2 separate regions of the Homo sapiens genome follow, and region 1 is linked to region 2. Evidence: fine-mapped QTL for protein levels in blood plasma. Region 2 holds a variant in brackets. A gene starts in the other region. All regions are shown on their forward strands.

Region 1 (8,339 bases), not on the chromosome of region 2:
TTTCAATTCAAAATTGAAAAACACATTTTTCAATGGGTATCATGAGAGAAGTTGGCACATGAAGAGAGATGAGTCTTACAAATGATAAAGCATTAGAGTAGCAATCTTGCCCTTCCAGAGGCCAGAGTTTCAAGCATTTTTCTGGCATCTTATGCTTAATTATCAAAATAAGTTTCTTGTTACTTAAAGTAAATTACCTCTCTTTGCCTTGCAATATGATAATTTCAGTTATTACCCTATTCCCTTCAACAGAGTATTATTAAAAACAGATACAGAAAATAACATTTTAATGTAAAAGCATTATTTACTGGATTTCAAATTATGCCTTCATTTTGTAGAAAGACAGATTGCTAGTGATTTTGTTCTTATCTACTAAAAGGTTTAACCGCTTTCCATTTTTATTGGACCCCTATTTTTATATACAAATTTCTTTGAGTATTGAAACATTGAGTGACATATCCAGCTGACTTACTGAAGCACCTTGGCTCTGGAGACCAGCCTTCTGTTGTACACGTGGTTTGCTCTTCTTGTCTTCCACTTTCAGTGGTATAACCAGCCAAGCAGAAAAATGACAATTTTTTGTCTATGCTCATTGGAAAGTAAAAGCTTTTAAAAGTATAGTAATATTGGGCAATTCTTCCATTTTCCACATGAGGAAAACCACAGGGTTTCTCTGAAATGAGTAAATGTCAAGCTGAAAATGGAAAAACAAATCTAAAAACATAAATTTGTAATCAGGTGACAATACAAACTAAAAGTTTTTAGAGACACTTCAACTAGTACTTATTTTTCTTACTTAAATTTTTAAGGTACTTTTGTGACAACTCAAGCAGTCCTTTTATCATAATTGATCTGCAAATGACTTTAAACATCCAACAGTCATGATAAAATTTAGCAGACCACTTTTTCAGGGAAGCTTTGCATAACTTCGTAGAACAGTACTTTTTTTTTTCTTCCTAGACACAGAGTCTTCCTCAGTTATCCAAGCTTCAGTGCAGTGCTGAAATATAGCTCACTGCCACCAGGAGCTCCTGGGCTTAAGCAAGCCTCCTCTCCTGTAGCTAGGACTGCAGGCACATGCCACCACATCTGGCTAATTTTTGTTTTATTTTTTGTAGAGATGAGGGGTCTCACTCTGTTGCTCACGCTGGTCTCAAACTCCTGGACTCAAAGGATCCTTCTGCTTTGGCCTCCCAAAGCACTAGGATTACAAGACTTGAACCACTCCACCCTGCCTGCACTTCCTAATAGATATGTATTGTAAGTCACTTATGTAATTTAAAAATTTCTAATAGTCACATTCATAAAAATACTAAGGAACAATTGAAGTTAGTTTTAATAATAGGTTTTTATTTAACCCAATATATTGAAAATATTTTACATTCTTTTTTTTTCTAACTCTTTAAAATCCACTACATATTTATACTTACAGAATATCTGATCTTGAACTAGTGACATTTTAAGTACTGTCTCCAATAGCTATATGTGGCTGATGGCCACTGTATTGGACAGTACAGTTCAGGAATAGGTAAAGTTTCTCCTTAACATATGCTAACTCATAAAAAATTTTGAAATAAATAGCATTAAAAGAAAAAACAGACAACCAAGTAAAACAAAGCAATACTTGGCAAGAACTTGGCAAAATAGGATATTTAAATGGTTAGAGACCTGGTACTTAGCATTACTAGTCATCAGGGAAATGAAAATTTAAACCACCATGAGATACTACTGCATATCCAATAGAACTGCTGAAATGAAAAAGACAAGCTATCTCAATGATTGTGAAGAAGTGAAGAAACTGGAACTCGCATATTTCTACAACTGAAAGTATAAATCAGTCCAAACTCTATGAGAGAACACCTTTGCAATATATATTGGGGTAAAACATGTACAAACCATATTACCCAATAAAAAAAGCACATATTTGTATACCAAAAGACATGGAAAAAAATGCTTATAGTGGCAGTATTCATATAGTCCCAAACTGGGAACAATCTAAATGCCCATAAATAATAGAAAAGATAAACACATTTTAGACTATGCATACAATGGAATATTATCCAACAACAGAAATGAACAAATGGTGAATCTCATAAACATAATATTGAGTGAAAGAAGCCAATCACATATGAATTAATGTATACATTTGCATAACTTTTTAAAAGAAAACAAACTAATCCATGATAATAGAAGTCAGAATGGTTACCTTTGGGGTTTAGTGCCTTAGAAGGATCATATTTCTGGGGTACTATCACTGTTCTATATCTTGATCTGGATGGTGTAAAATTTTGTAAAAACTATATAAGTGTATCCTGTGATTTTTGCATTTTTCTGGATATGTTATACTCCAAATAAAACATATATTTTAAAAATATATCTTTATGTTGAAGATCTTAAAGTCATAAAAACACTTAAAAGAAAGAAATGCTCGAACAATCCTAGGAGCTGTGGTGGGAAGAAACATGGGCAGTCATGGATGGAAGAAGGCCTAGATCCAGTGTGATTACTACGGCTTCAATGCCTTGGTTGATCACTGTATACCTTAATGCTACTATGAGACATAAAATACTAGTAGTGCTAGCCTAGGTTTGAAGGAAATGGATGTGGAATGATGAGCAACAAAACTTCCACTATCTGATGGAGCAGACAGAAAAACATGGGCTGGATAGTCCCCATTCCTTGAGAATTATTCTCACCATTTTTTCACACCCAAGCACCAAAGGAATTTACAATAAAAAGAGTCTTCCAAAATAGCAGTGCAATGGTGAATACACAAGAAATTTCCCTGAGGGGCACAGTTGCTTGTCAGGGAGGGGCAGCAAAGTATTCTCTGCACAACAATCCTAGGTTGTGGCTTTAAAGACTCTCTGTCCTGGGACATCTCCCTCCACCACCAGGATAGGCACATTATTTGTTAAGGTAGCTGGAATGCCTTGGAGAATATGAATTCCTGACAAAAAATTAATGAGAAATGTGAGGAATATACTAATCACATATAAACCAGGAAATCACAGATGTCTGAACATATTAAAAAAAGTACATGAAGCGATGGACACACTTACTACTGATCAGAGAATGGTAAATAAATAAAAATGGGATATCACTTTATGAATAACCATATAGCAACCAGTACAAAAATGGACAATATGAGGTGTTGGTGAGAATGATGAGGAGCAACAATTTACATCCTCTCTCAGAGATGATATACTTCAAAACTGCCATTCTGCAAAAGTAATCTCTCATTACAGAAATCAAGTACAAGAATAGACTCAATAATGCTATCTGTGAGTGAATACAGACTGATGACATTCTTACAGAAAGATAAGTTGGTTATATTACAATATTCATTCCAGAGCTATTTGTGGTTGAGAGAGCTAGAGTAACATGTTAAAACATTGTAGTAGGTCCCAGGGGAAATGGACTTCAAGATTAGGAATAAGGGGATAAAATGTGTAAGTAAAGCAAGAGTGAGACCTTTCATAGGCCAATAATACTTGCATACCATGAAATGAGAAACACAATTAATTCAATTCTTGTCCCTGAAGTGCACAATGGGAGTTGAGAGAAGCATGCAAAAATAAAATCATTGTCTTGGTCTTCAAGCAGCTTACTTTTTTTTTTGTTGTGTAAAATAGCATTATAACCTTATAATAATTAGAAAATTAACTAGAATATTGCAATGTCTTTATGGTATAGATAACAGACAATTATATCTGCTGGTATTTCCCTATTTAGACAGAAAAATAAAATCAAAAGAAATTCATGCAAAAATCATCCTATTATAGAATTAAAAGTATAAAATAAGATTAATTCTGTGTCTTTCACTTTTATAATTTTAATTATAGATGTTTTGGTAGAAAATTTATAGTTAACTATTCAACTAAAACACAGTTAAAACTTATGTATTTAATTTCAACAAATTCCCAAAAATGTTTATTTTAGAAAAGCTGTATTGCTGTAGCTTCCTTCTTTGTATGTTCACTCTTGCTAATGCTAAGTGTCCTCCCTGGATTCTTCATCCTATGGCCTGATAATATTGATAATGTTCCTGAACAACATACCCATGTACACTGCCTAGCTTCCACTCGCACACTAATCTTACACATTGGGCAATCTGACTATAAAGCTTTCTAATAGGGAGTCCATAGGTATTGGTTTGTTTGGAAAGTCCTGATTTACATGTGTTGTCCAAACAGTTATTAATAGAGCCCCTCTTTTACTCTCTAAGTGTCCCTGTTTGTACAAGCAATTATATGGTTCACCTACTAATCACTACTTAATGTCTCCAACAAATGAATAATTCATTGTGATAAAAATCAAAGTCTCAAAAGTAAAAAATATTTATGGCTATTTCCTTTTCAAATTTCCCACATTAAACTCTCACCTTATGAACAGAATTAAAATTGTACAAGTTTTGTCAGTATTAGGAATGGATTCTAGCATAAATTTAGAATTAAAGTTAACATGTGACTTCGAAATGGACATATTGTTAACCTGAAAACCTTTTCGAAGTATTTAGATCCTGGTCTCCTATGCCCCCTAGAGATACAAGGGTTTTTGTTTTGTTTTGCTTTTCTGACTTATGCTACTGTAAGAACACTTTACTAATTTTGCTCAAAGGAAAAGGTCTAAATATTATAAAAAGTTATATTTATAAAATATGTTATAAAATTGATAATGAAAATAGAAGAGTATATTAAAACTTGAGTTGTATAAATATTAGAATCTCCATTTGTATGTTTTAGAGAATAAAGAATATTAAGAATTAATTTTACCTTCTGCATAGAGTTCTCCTGAGATTATCAATATGATGATAAAAGTCAGGTTTTTCAACCTCATCTTCAGTGGTGTGCTTCACAAAGATTTTAACAATTCTAAGCACTAGGAACTTGTCATTAAGTACACAATACTTCTCTTGAGGAAAAAGTTAATAATTTATAACCTCTGTCTAAGTCCTTTTGTAACGAGTCTTATATTTCACTTAAAATATTTTGAAATAATGTTAAAATAACACAACTATATTAATTGACATTACTTACCATGTCAGAGTCCAGTAAGAGCATGATAACTGATTAGGGCAACAATAGCAGCAGAATAAATAATAAATTATAGCAGCAGAATAAATAATACTAGGTAAATTTTCAACCTAAGTTCCCAATTGTAAATTCATAGAGTAAAGTTCACTTGAGGCCATAGATCTTTACTAATATTGATCAGGTAAAAAGATGAACTTAGGAACATGAGATAACAGATACCTGATGTTGAAATATGTTGTTGCCTAGACTGCACTCCTTAAAGAGATACAGAACCATAGTTGTCTCAATGATAGAATAGTATTACTTATAATAGTAGTGTTTGACATTTAGAGAGTTTTTACTTTGTGGCAGGTGGTGAGATCAGCACTGTGCTATATCAACATTCATTCATGAGAAATGTTTAGAACGTCCATGATAATGGCAGCACATGTAACAGTTTTGAGGTATTTAGCAGTGAAAAAACTGGATTAAAATTATTGCCCTCATGGAGTTTACATTCTAATGAGTTTTAATTTAAAATACAAAATAGGAAAAAATGGTGGATAGGAGGCAGGACTAACTTGCAGCTCCCACTTGGATGGACAGAGCAGGATGTGGAGACTCGCATTGTGAACTTTTGCTCCAAGAACTGCTGCAAGGATATAACAGGAAAGCCAAGATAATCCACAGACCCTCTGAAGAAAGTATATTGCTCCTGCATGACCCAGAAAATAGCCCACATACTGTGAATGCCCAAACTGTGAAAAGTGTGAAAGGGGTATTGTCCACCCCTGAACACACACCCTTGGGGAACCTGAAGGTCTAGATCACAGGAGAAGGATTTGACCTTACCTGGAGCTCAGACAATTTAGAGAGCTGAGCGAAATACAGGGGTAGAGGAAGCAAAGGGTAAAGCCCCATCGTCTCTGTGGGTCCCCAGAGAAGCCATTTCTGACTTGTCTCACAGGGGCTGCCGGAGGAACTGGGAAAAGACCACAGGGAGAAGGAAACCTCCAGCTGAACTTAGTAACAATTCCAACCGAACACAAACTTTCCTGTCCAGAACTCAGGAAAGGGCGTGAATCTGGTGTGCAGACTTAACAGGTAGGGAGGCACAAAAGTCTGGCTTGCATTCTCAGCTGGGAGGCTAGTAGCCTGGGGCAAGTTCTCAATCCTGCTCCCCTACTGCCTGGAAACAAATTCGGTGCTTTTTGGGGGAACACAGTAGAAGTGAGATTTGCTTGTTGGGTTGTGTGAGAGCTGGGTGAGGTCTGTAACTGCCAGCTTTCCCCCACTTCCCTGACAACCTGCATGACACAGAAGAGGCAGCCATAATCCTCCTGGGAAGGTAACTCCATTAACCTGGGAATCACACCCCCATTCCCCACAGAGCCACAACAAGCCCCACCCAAGAAGACTCTGAGCTCAGACATGCCTAACCCTGCCCCCACCTGATGGTCCTTCCCTACCCACCCTGGTAGCTGAAGACAAAGGTCATATTCTCTTGGAAGTTCTAGTGTCCCACCCACCACCTGATCCTCCCCTATATACCACAGCTGATGCTCTCATGAAAGCACTACCTCATGGCAGTGTGTCTGGAATTGGTTCCTTCCAATGGGTTCTTGGTCTTGCTGACTTCAAGAATGAAGCTGCGGACGCTTGCGGTGAGCATTACAGTTTTTAAAGATGGTGTGTCCGGAGTTTGTTCCTCTGATGTTCAGATGTGTCCAGAGTTTCTTCCTTCTGGTGGGTTCCTGGTCTTGCTGACTTCAGGAGTGAAGCCGCAGACCTTCACAGTGAGTGTTACAGCTCTAAAAGATGGTGCGTCCGGAGTTGTTTCTTCCTCCTGGTGGGTTCGAGGTCTTGCTGACTTCAGGAGTGAAGCCACAGACCTTCGCGGTGAGTGTTACAGCTCATAAAGGTAGTGCAGACCCAAAAAGAGAGCAGCAGCAAGATTTATTGCAAAGAGCGAAAGAACAAAGTTTCCACAGCCTGGAAGGGGACCAGACCAGGTTGCTGCGGCTGGCTCGGGTGGCCAGCTTTTATTCCCTTATTTGGCTCCGCCCACATCCCGCTGATTGGCACATTTTACAGAGTGCTGGTTGGTCTGTTTTTACAAAGTGCTGATTGGTGCATTTACAAACCTTTAGCTAGACACAGAGCGCTGATTGGTGTGTTTACAATCCTTTAGCTAGACAGAAAAGTTCTCCAAGTCCCCATTCGACCCAGGAAGTCCAGCTGGCTTCACCTCTCAGCAGGAGGCCAACCAGCACCAAACTAGTGCATCAAACAACTACAACTAAGGACCCTCACAGAGTTCCTTTCACTCCCCTGCCACCTCTACTGGAACAGGTGCTGGTATCCATGACTGAGAGAACTGAAGACAGTTTACATCACAGGACTCTATGCAGACAACCCCCAGTACCAGCCCAGAGCCTGGTAGCCCTTCTGGTGGCTAGATCCAGAAAAGTAATAATAATCACTACAGTTTGGCTCTCAGGAAGTCACATCCCTAGGAAAAGGGGGAGAATACTACATCAAGGGAGCACCCCGTGGGACAAAAGAATCTGAACAGCAGCCTTGAGCCCCAGATCTCCCCTCTGACATAGCCTACCCAAAAGAGAAGGAACTAGAAAAACAATTTTGGTATTATGACAAAACAAGGTTCTTTAACACCACCCAAAAATCACACTAGCTCATCAGCAATGGATCCAAACCAAGAAGAAATTCCTGAACTGCCAGAAAAAGAATTCAGAAGTTTGATTATTAAGCTAATCAAGGAGGCACCAGAGAGAGGTGAAATCCAACTTAAGGATATCAAAAAAATGACACAAGATATGAGCGGAGAAATCTTCAGTGAAATAGATAGCATAAATAAAAAACAGTCACAACTTCAAGAAATAAAGAACACACTTAGAGAAAAGCAAAATGTACTGGAAAGTCTCAGCAATATAATAAAACAAGCAGAAGAAAGAACTTCAGAGCTTGAAGACAAGGTTTTCGAAGTAATCCAATCCAAAAAAGACAAAGAAAAAAATTTAAGTGAATAAAGCCTCCAAGAAGTTTGGGATTATGTTAAATGACTAAACCTAAGAATAATTGGTGTTCCTGAGGAAGAAGAAAAATCTGAAAATTTGGAAAACATATTTAGGGAAATAATTGAAAAAAAAAAACTTCCCTGGCCTTGCTAGAAATCTAGCCATCCATACACAAGAAGCTCAAAGAACACTTGGGAAATCATCATAAAAATATCATTACGGCCGGGCACAGTGGCTCATGCCTGTAATCCCAGCACTTTGGGAGGCCGAGGGAGGTGGATCATGA
Region 2 (8,339 bases):
TAGCCCAGGTGGGGTGTGCATGATCTCATTATGGTGTTGTTGTGTCCTTTCTACAGACGGGGAAACTGGGGCTCTGAGAGCTGAGATTCAAACCCAGATTGCCTGAGTCCACACTGCACCCTCTGCCTACTGTGGCTGGGTGCCAGGAGCTACCTCGCAGCCAAGCCAAAGCCCTTTCCTGTCCTGCCTAGGGAATCTCAGCCCACCTCAGGCCCAAGGCTACCCGTAGCTTCCTTGGGGGAGACCTCTGTGAATGTCACAAGAGCCTGCAGTGGGGTGGGGGCTTCAGGCTCAGGCTGTGGAAGCCTCCTGTCCCCACTCCCTCCCTGTCCTGTGGCAGGGAGGGGACAGGGGTCAGCCTGCGACTTCTGAGCATGAGCTCACACCAGTAGAACACCATCACTCCCGGCCTAGAGGGAGTTGTCTGGTCCTGTTTCTGGTTGGGCCTGCGGTTTTCAAACTTGGACATGCATCAGAACTCTGTGAGAACACAGCTCACTGGGACCAGCCCAGAGGGGCTGATGCTGCTGGCCCAGGAACCCTACTCCAAGCCACCGGGCACAGCTGTCCCTGCAAGTTCTGAGGCAGGGATGTGGGCCAAGCTGAGGATTGACGCAGGGGCACAGGTAGGGGAGAGCCTGCTTCTGAGAAGCTGCCCCCTGTAAGTCTGGGGCCCAGTGCCTCCCACAAGCCCTCCCACTGTCCCTCAGCATGAGGCAGGTGTCCCTCCACTGTGGAAAAGTCAGGAGTCATCAGTGTGGCATGTTGGAAACAAACATACTATAAACATACCATTTTTAGTTATTTTCCTTGCATAAATCCGTGAAGGGACGAGGCCTAAAGAGGACTCCGTCCCAAGCCCGAGAGAGTCAGCCCACATGTTTTCATGCTGGTTGGGATCATTGTGTTCAGGCTGGGGATGTCCTCACTGGGTCAAGTAGAGGGTTGGTGAGCACATTCAGGCCAGCAGGTAAGCGAGTGTCGCCTTCATTTTGGTCAAGGATATGTCATCAGGGGCCAGGTGTGGTGGCTCACACCTGTAATCCCAGCACTTTGGGAGGCCAAGGCAGGCGGATCACTTGAGGTCAGGAGTTCGAGACCAGCCTGGCCAACATGACAACACCCCATGTCTACTGAAAATACAAAAATTAGCTAGCGTGGTGGTGCATGCCTGTAATCCCAGCTACTCGGGAGGCTGAGGCACGAGAATTGCCTGAACCAGGGGTTGGAGGTTGCAGCGGGTGGAAATTTTGCCACTGCACTCCAGCCTGGGTGACAGAGTGAGACCCTGTCTCAAAGAAAAAAAAAAAAAGATACATCATCTGGGACAATAACCTTGAAAAGCAGGGGTCCCAGACGACCTTATTTGCAGAGAATGCGACTGCAGACGGCAAGCAGGGGGGCATGCCCTTCGCTCTCTGTCCTCTGCTCTTTGCCCCGGCCACTGTCGGCCTCATCTGAAGGCCACCTGTGCCTCACGGTCTGAAAACGCTGGTTTCCACAGCTGCTTCTCCTTCCAAATTTCCCTGGAGTCTTGCTTTGGTGGCGAACCTCTGGTTCTATTCCTTCCTTTTAACTGAAGCCTATAGGAAAAATTTGGAAGTTGAAATATGCCAGTCCAAGGAAGGTGGACGTGGAGTTCTGAGGGTGGGGGTGCTGCCAGGGAAGTGGCACTGTGCAGGGGACCGCCCCTGGGACCCCCTGGTTCCTGTCAAGAGCAGGTAGGGGCTGGGCGCGGTGGCTCACGCCTATAATCCCAGCACTTTGGGAGGTCAAGGAGAGTGGATCACCTAAGGTCAGGAGTTCAAGACCAGCTGACCAACATGGTGAAACCCCGTCTCTACTAAAAATACAAAAATTAGCTGGGCGTGGTGGCAGGCGCCTATAATCCCAGGTATTCAGGAGGCTGAGGCAGGAGAATAGCTTGAACCCAGGAGGCAGAGGTTGCAGTGAGCTGAGATCGCACCACTGCACTCCAGCCTGGGCGACAGAGCGAGACTCTGTCTACACACACACACACACACACACAGACACACACACACACACAGATCAGGTAGGATGTGAGGTGTGTCCTCATGGCCGGACATGGGGTGGGTGGGGCCAAACAACCACAGGGACTCGTCCTGTGGCCACTGCTGCTCAGGAAGTGGATCCCAAGGAGCAGAGTCGCCAGACCCCTCAGTTCCCAGCTCCACATTTAAGGCAGGTCTGGCCATGAGCCAGGCCTCTGCATGTGACCTGGGGCCTCACTGTGGCATGGCTGCCTGTCCCACCTGTGGATGTTGCCTGTGCTGTGTAGAAGCCACATAGCCTCCGGGGCGGCTCCCCAGAATGCCACATTTCCTGTCTCTGGCTCTGATGGCGTCTAGGCTGGCAGGGGTCCCGGCCCCAGCAGTACTGTTGCCGGGCAGAGCTCAGGGCCACGTGCAGTTGGGTCTGGCTGAGAGCATCTCATGGGTTTATGAGAACCCTTCCAGCACAAAGGGGCATTTATCAGGCAGGGATGGCATGTCTTGGTCTGAACACAGGAAACACAGAAATAGCCTTTCACAGAGTGCCAGCAGGGCTGGGCTCGCCTGCTGTGGAGGGTGTCGGCTTTCCAACTCCTTCTCCAAGCTGTGCGACCCGTCCATGTTCCCCTGTGAGTTGTTCTGTCCCAGACAGGGCATTCCCTGAGAACGCTCCTGCTGCAACTGGAGGGAGAGAGGCAGGGAGGGGAAAGGGGAAGACTTGCAGGGAGAAGGAAGAAGGGAGACAGATGGAGACAGACAGAAGGAGGGATGGAAGAAATGAGAGAGAGAGAGGGAGGGAGATGGAAACATAGATTGTCTCCACTGTGACACCCTGCCTCCATGGTTCTCCATGATGGGAATGGAATTCATGTCTCACCTGGCAGCAAGGGTCTCCACAATATGACTTCACCTTCTTTCTCTTAGTAAGGCGAGAGCAGACAGGCAGACACTCCAGGAAGTAACTGATGTGTCCCTGAAAATGCCTGTCTTTCCCAGCTTGTACAACTTTGCTTGTGTTATTTCTTCTGCCTATAATGACTCTCAAAATATCCAGATTGCAAAAGAATTAAGCCCCTTTTGATACCTATAAATAATTTCTATCATTGTAATATACTAAAAACCAATGATAGTAAGGTTTTGGAGAGGTAAAAAGCAGTCTCGTTGCCAGTACAGAGATTGAAGATTCAAAGGCTTCACTAATTAGGATGTGTTTTTCTCTCACATGAAAAAAGCCTGGATATAGGCAATCTAAGGCCAGCATGGTACCCCCGTA[A/AT]TTTTTTTTTTTTTGAGATGGAGTTTCACTCAGGCTGGAGTGCAATGGTGCAATCTCAGCTCACTGCAACCTCTGCCCCCGGGTTCAAGTGATTCTCCTTTCTCAGCCTCCCAGGTAGTTGGGATTACAGGTGCCTGCTGCCCCACCCAGCTATTTTTTTTTTTTTTGTATTTTTAGTAAAGACAGGTTTCCATCATGTTGGCCAGGTTGGTCTCGACCTCCTGACCTCAAGTGATCCAGCCACCTTGGCCTCCCATAGTGCTGGGATTACAGGCCTGAGCCACCGTGCCTGGCCTGTTTCTTTTTTTTTTTTTTTTTTTGAGACGGAGTCTCACTCTGTCGCCCAGTCTGGAGTGCAGTGGTGTGATCTTGGCTCACTGTAAGCTCCGCCTTCCGGGTTCACACCATTCTCCTGCCTCAGCCTCCTGAGTAGCTGGGACTACAGGTGCCCGCCACCACACCCAGCTAATTTTTTGTATTTTTTAGTAGAGAACGGGGTTTCACCGTATTAGCCAGAATGGTCTCGATCCCCTGACCTCATGATCCACCCGCCTCGACCTCCCAAAGTGCTGGGATTACAGGCGTGAGCCACCATGCCCAGCCGTGTGGCCTGTTTCTTTTGTTTCTGTTTTTGTGTTTTGAGACAGAGTCTTGCTCTGTCTCCCAGGCTGGAGTGCAGTGGGGCAATCTCGGCTCACTGCAACCTCTGCCTCCTGGGTTCAAGCAATTCTCTTGCTTCAGCCTCCTGAGTAGCTGGGATTACAGGTGCCCACTACCATGCCTGGCTAATTTTTGTATTTTTAGTAGACGGGGTTTCACCCTGTGGGTGAGGCTGGTCTCGAACTCCTGACCTCAAGTGATTTGCCCTCCTTGGCCACCCAAAGTGCTGGGATTACAGGCGTGAGCCACCATGCTTGGCCCCCATAATGTTACTGGGGATCTTTCTTTTCTGCTTTGCAAAGTGTATAAATTCCATCCTCAAAGTAGCCTCATGGTCCATGAGGGCTGCTGGCTAGCCAACCATCACAGCAGGAAGCAGATGTTGGGAGCACAGCAGGGCTCATTTCCAGTTGTCCCCTCTTATGGAGCTTTCCAGATGACCCACTCAATTAATTCTTCTTACATTTCATTGCTACCACTATTTACAAGGTAGGCTAGGTACAGTGTCCCTCAGAATAAAATCAGAGCTCATTTCCTGCGGAACACAGCTGGGTTATCTGCATTGTCTGCCTCAGGCCAGCACCTGTAAATACAGCTGGTGGAGAGGGGCAGTGGCTGATTCTTCTGGGTGGCAAATTTTAAAATATATGCCAAGAGTGATTCAAATATTCATTTCCTCTCATGTAGTCTCAAGTGTGTGACTTTATGTTTGGGAAACCCAAAGAAAGGTGGAGAAGCACATGCATGAAGATATCCATTGCCCCCTGATTGTTAAGCATGACAAGTCAGAAACAACTGAAATTTCCAACAGTGGGAAAAACACAAGCATGCTATGTTCTGAAATTCACTTGGTGGAATGTTCCGTCAGTCACTGTGATATGGTTTGGCTGTGTCCCCACCCAAATCTCATCTTGAATTGTAGCTCCCATAATTCCCTTGTGTTGTGGGAGGGACCCAGTGGGAGATAAATGAATCATGGGGGCGGTTTCCCCCATACTGTTCTCGTGGTAGTGAATAAGGATCATGAGATCTGATGGTTTAATATGGGGAAACCCCTGTCTCTTCGCTGTCATTCTTCTCATGTCTGCCACCATGTGAGACGTGCCTTTCGCCTTCCATCATGATTGTGAGGCCTCCCCAGCCACATGGAACTGTGAGTCGGTTAAATCTCTTTCTTTTGTAAATTGCCCAGTCTCCAGTATGTCTTTATAGCAGCATGAAAACTGACTAATACACACTACACACTGTAAATGTTAGTCATGGAGGATGTGTACCAACATGGAAGAGTGTTTACAATGTATCTTTAGAGAAAAGATGGACTATCCAAGTATGCATACTGGAATTATCATTAGATTACCATACATCTGGGTGAGGAGCAGAACAGAGACATAAGGTGAGTTTGTGGGCAAGGTTTTCTTTTTAAACTTCCCAAAAGCTTGCTTTACATACATGTAGGCTTAAATAATTTTTTTTTGAGAGATAGTTTCACTCTTATTGCCCAGGCTGGAGTGCAGTGGCACAATCTCAGCTCACTGCAACCTCCGCCTCCCGGGTTCAAGTGATTCTCCTGCCTCAGCCTCCTGAATAGCTGGGATTACAGGCACCCGCCTCCAAGCCCAGCTAACTTTTTGTATTTTTAATAGAGATGGGGTTTCATCATGTTGGCCAGGCTGGTCTTGAACATCTGACCTCAAGTGATCCACCTGCCTCGGCCTCCCAAAGTGCTGGGATTACAGACATGAGCCACCATGCCCAGCCAAATAACATTTTTCTTATTTTAAAAAGTAAGTTCATTGTAAAAAGTTTAGAAAACAAAGGTAAGAAAAAAAATAATTCTGTTGCCCAGAAATAAAAACTGTCCATGTTTTGATATTGTATCCTCAGTAACAGCAACCGTGAACCTCAGAGGCAGCCAAGGGTGAGTATTTATGTCTTGCTCTTGCACCTGTGGGTTGGTTGGCATTTGGCTGATCTTGGTGGACTTGGTCCCAACTGTGGCCTTGCTCTGTGTGTCTCTCATTCTCCTGGGCCCACCTGGTTCTCAGGAAATGTTCCTCCCATATGGAAAGTCAGAAGCTGCCAGAGAGGCAAGTGGAGCATGCAAGACAACTGATGGCATAGTCTCAGAACTGACCATGAATACTGCTCTCCACTTTCCATTGACCAAAGCAAGTCCAACGTTGTGGGAAAGGGTCCCTCACCCACAGTGGGAGGTGAGGGGTGTGGACACTTGCCACTTGCTGATTGATGACCAAAATATCCCAGGTATATACCCTTTCACACTTTTCCTATGCTTTTTTAAATAAAGACACTCTTTACCAATCAGAATCACTCTACATATTGTTTTGCCACTCAGTTATATGTATGACTACATCTTTTTATGTCATAAAAATTCTTCTGCAACATGTGACTGCTTGCAATTCTATTTTGTGGTCATATCATGATTTATTCAACCTGATGGACATTTATCTTTTCCTTTATTTATTTATTTATTTAGTTATTTACTAAGATGGATTTTCCCTCTTGTCACCCAGGCTGGAGTGCAATGGCACCATCGCGGCTCACTGCAACCTCCACCTCCTGGGTTCAAGCGATTCTCCTGCCTCAGCCTCCCGAGTAGCTGGGATTACAGGTGCCCACCACCACGCCCAGCTAATTTGTGTATTTTTAGTAGAGACGGGTTTCACCATGCTGGCCTCGAACTCCTGACTTCAGGTGATCCACCTGCCTCGGCCTCCCAAAGTGCCGGGATTACAGGTGTGAGCCACTGTGCCTGGCATCCTTCTTTTTTTCTTCTGAAAACAACACTATAATGGCCATCCTCTCCTGGTATATAAATCTCTGCACACATACTTGAGTGATTTAAGAATTAATTGCCAGCCTCAGGATGGCCCCCAATGATCCTTGCTTCCGTATTCATAACCAGCATAGTCTCCCTTCCCAGTAAATCAGGGAGACTGCATGTGGCCAGTAAATTCCAGCAGAGGTAGATGGTGTGTGACGTCTAAGGCTGGGTCATAAAGCACACTGTGGCTTCAGACTTTCCCTTCTGGACTGCTCATTTTAGGGGAAGCCAGCCACCATGTCATAAGGACAAAGCAGCCCTGAGGAGAACCAATCCCTTGGGGAGGAACTCGGCCCCCAGTCAGCAGCCAATACCAACTTGCCCATGTGTGAGTTAGTCACCTTGAAAGTGGATCTGCTGTCCCAGCCAAGCCTTCAGATGAGACCACAGCTCTGGCCAACACCTGACTGCAGCCTCATGAGAGACCCAGAGAACCATCCTGTTGAGTCTCTCTTGAATTCTTGGCCCATAGAAATTGCTAGTGATAGTAAATTATTCTTGTTTTTTAAACCACTAAGTTTTAGGTTAATTTATTACACAGCAGGAATGATAACTTAAATGGTGACTATTTTGGTCAAAAGAGGCCAGGCTCTGCTACAGTATCAAATAAACCACACTTGATGGCTAATACAATAAGGTTTATTTCATACTCACTTACACCTGATGTGGGTAGGAGGGCTCTCCTGCTTGGCACGCAAGTCCCAGGGATGCAGAGTATTTTCACCTAGAAGCAGGTCACTTCTTCTCACATTCAGGTGGTGAGAAAGCTGTGTTATCACACCCAGGAGCATGGAGCCAAGAAACATAGTTTAGTTGTATGCCCCAGAATATAACTAAATAAACGTTTAGTATTGCCTCTGCCACAGTGAATCAAGAGAAATGAAAGTGACTACTATGTATTTGAAAAGTAAAAATTCCCAGAAGTACAGAAATGCATATTGAAACTGATTCATGATTTTTCACTTCCTGTGGAATAAACAAAACTCCCTTTTTGAAATCTGAGAATATCCAAACTTCCACAATTGCTACAGGATAAACACTTCCATATACAGCTGGTAGGAATAAGAATAGGCTTGACTTTTCCAGATGATAAAGTTGCAAGATTTATCCACAGCCTTTAAAATATTTATATTCCTTGACCCAAATAATTTTGCTTCTGGGAATCTATTATAGGGAGATATATATATATATATATATATATATATTTTTTTTTTTTTTTTTTTTTTTGAGACGGAGTCTTGCATGTCACCCAGGCTGGAATGCAGTGGTGCAATCTCGGCTTGCTGCAAGCTCCGCCTCCCAGGTTCACACCATTCTCCTGCCTCAGCCTCTTGAGTAGCTGGGACTACAGGCGCCCGCCACCACGCCTGGCTAATTTTTTGTATTTTTAGTAGAGATGAGGTTTCACTGTGTTAGCCAGGATGGTCTCTATCTCCTGACCTCGTGATCCCCCTGCCTCGGCCTCCCAAAGTGTTGGGATTACAGGCGTGAGCCACTGCGCCCAGCCAGGGAGATATTTTTTAATAAGATAAAAGCTTTATGCATAATT

Direction of the effects. Positions count from the first base shown, and alleles are read on the strand shown. Strength reflects both the effect of a copy and how common the allele is.
With allele A in place of AT in region 2, the plasma level of the protein whose gene starts at base 4,876 in region 1 is higher (weak association).

The links. PIP is the chance, under the fine-mapping model, that this variant and not a neighbour inherited with it causes the effect. The UK Biobank Pharma Proteomics Project read protein levels with antibody pairs (Olink). The fine-mapping took linkage between variants from a reference panel, not from the people measured, so its PIPs are less certain.
Region 1: F13B starts here. The variant in region 2 is fine-mapped to the plasma level of the F13B protein (UK Biobank, PIP 0.98).

What each region holds. Positions count from the first base shown.
Region 1 is chr1:197,062,385-197,070,723 of GRCh38, forward strand. F13B (coagulation factor XIII B chain) reads right to left here and starts at 4,876. Exons shown (of 12, transcript NM_001994.3): 1 at 4,776-4,876; 2 at 473-673. The coding sequence starts at 4,839. RefSeq lists an enhancer at 5,984-7,183.
Region 2 is chr9:93,141,854-93,150,192 of GRCh38, forward strand. LOC124902212 (a long non-coding RNA gene) reads left to right here. Exons shown (of 3, transcript XR_007061665.1): 2 at 5,830-6,210; 3 at 6,480-6,516. LOC124902213 (a long non-coding RNA gene) reads left to right here and starts at 6,548. Exons shown (of 2, transcript XR_007061667.1): 1 at 6,548-6,577; 2 at 7,013-7,423. RefSeq lists enhancers at 1,099-1,971, 1,972-2,844, 2,432-2,571 and a silencer at 4,594-4,888. The variant A/AT (reference allele first, on the strand shown) is at 3,286.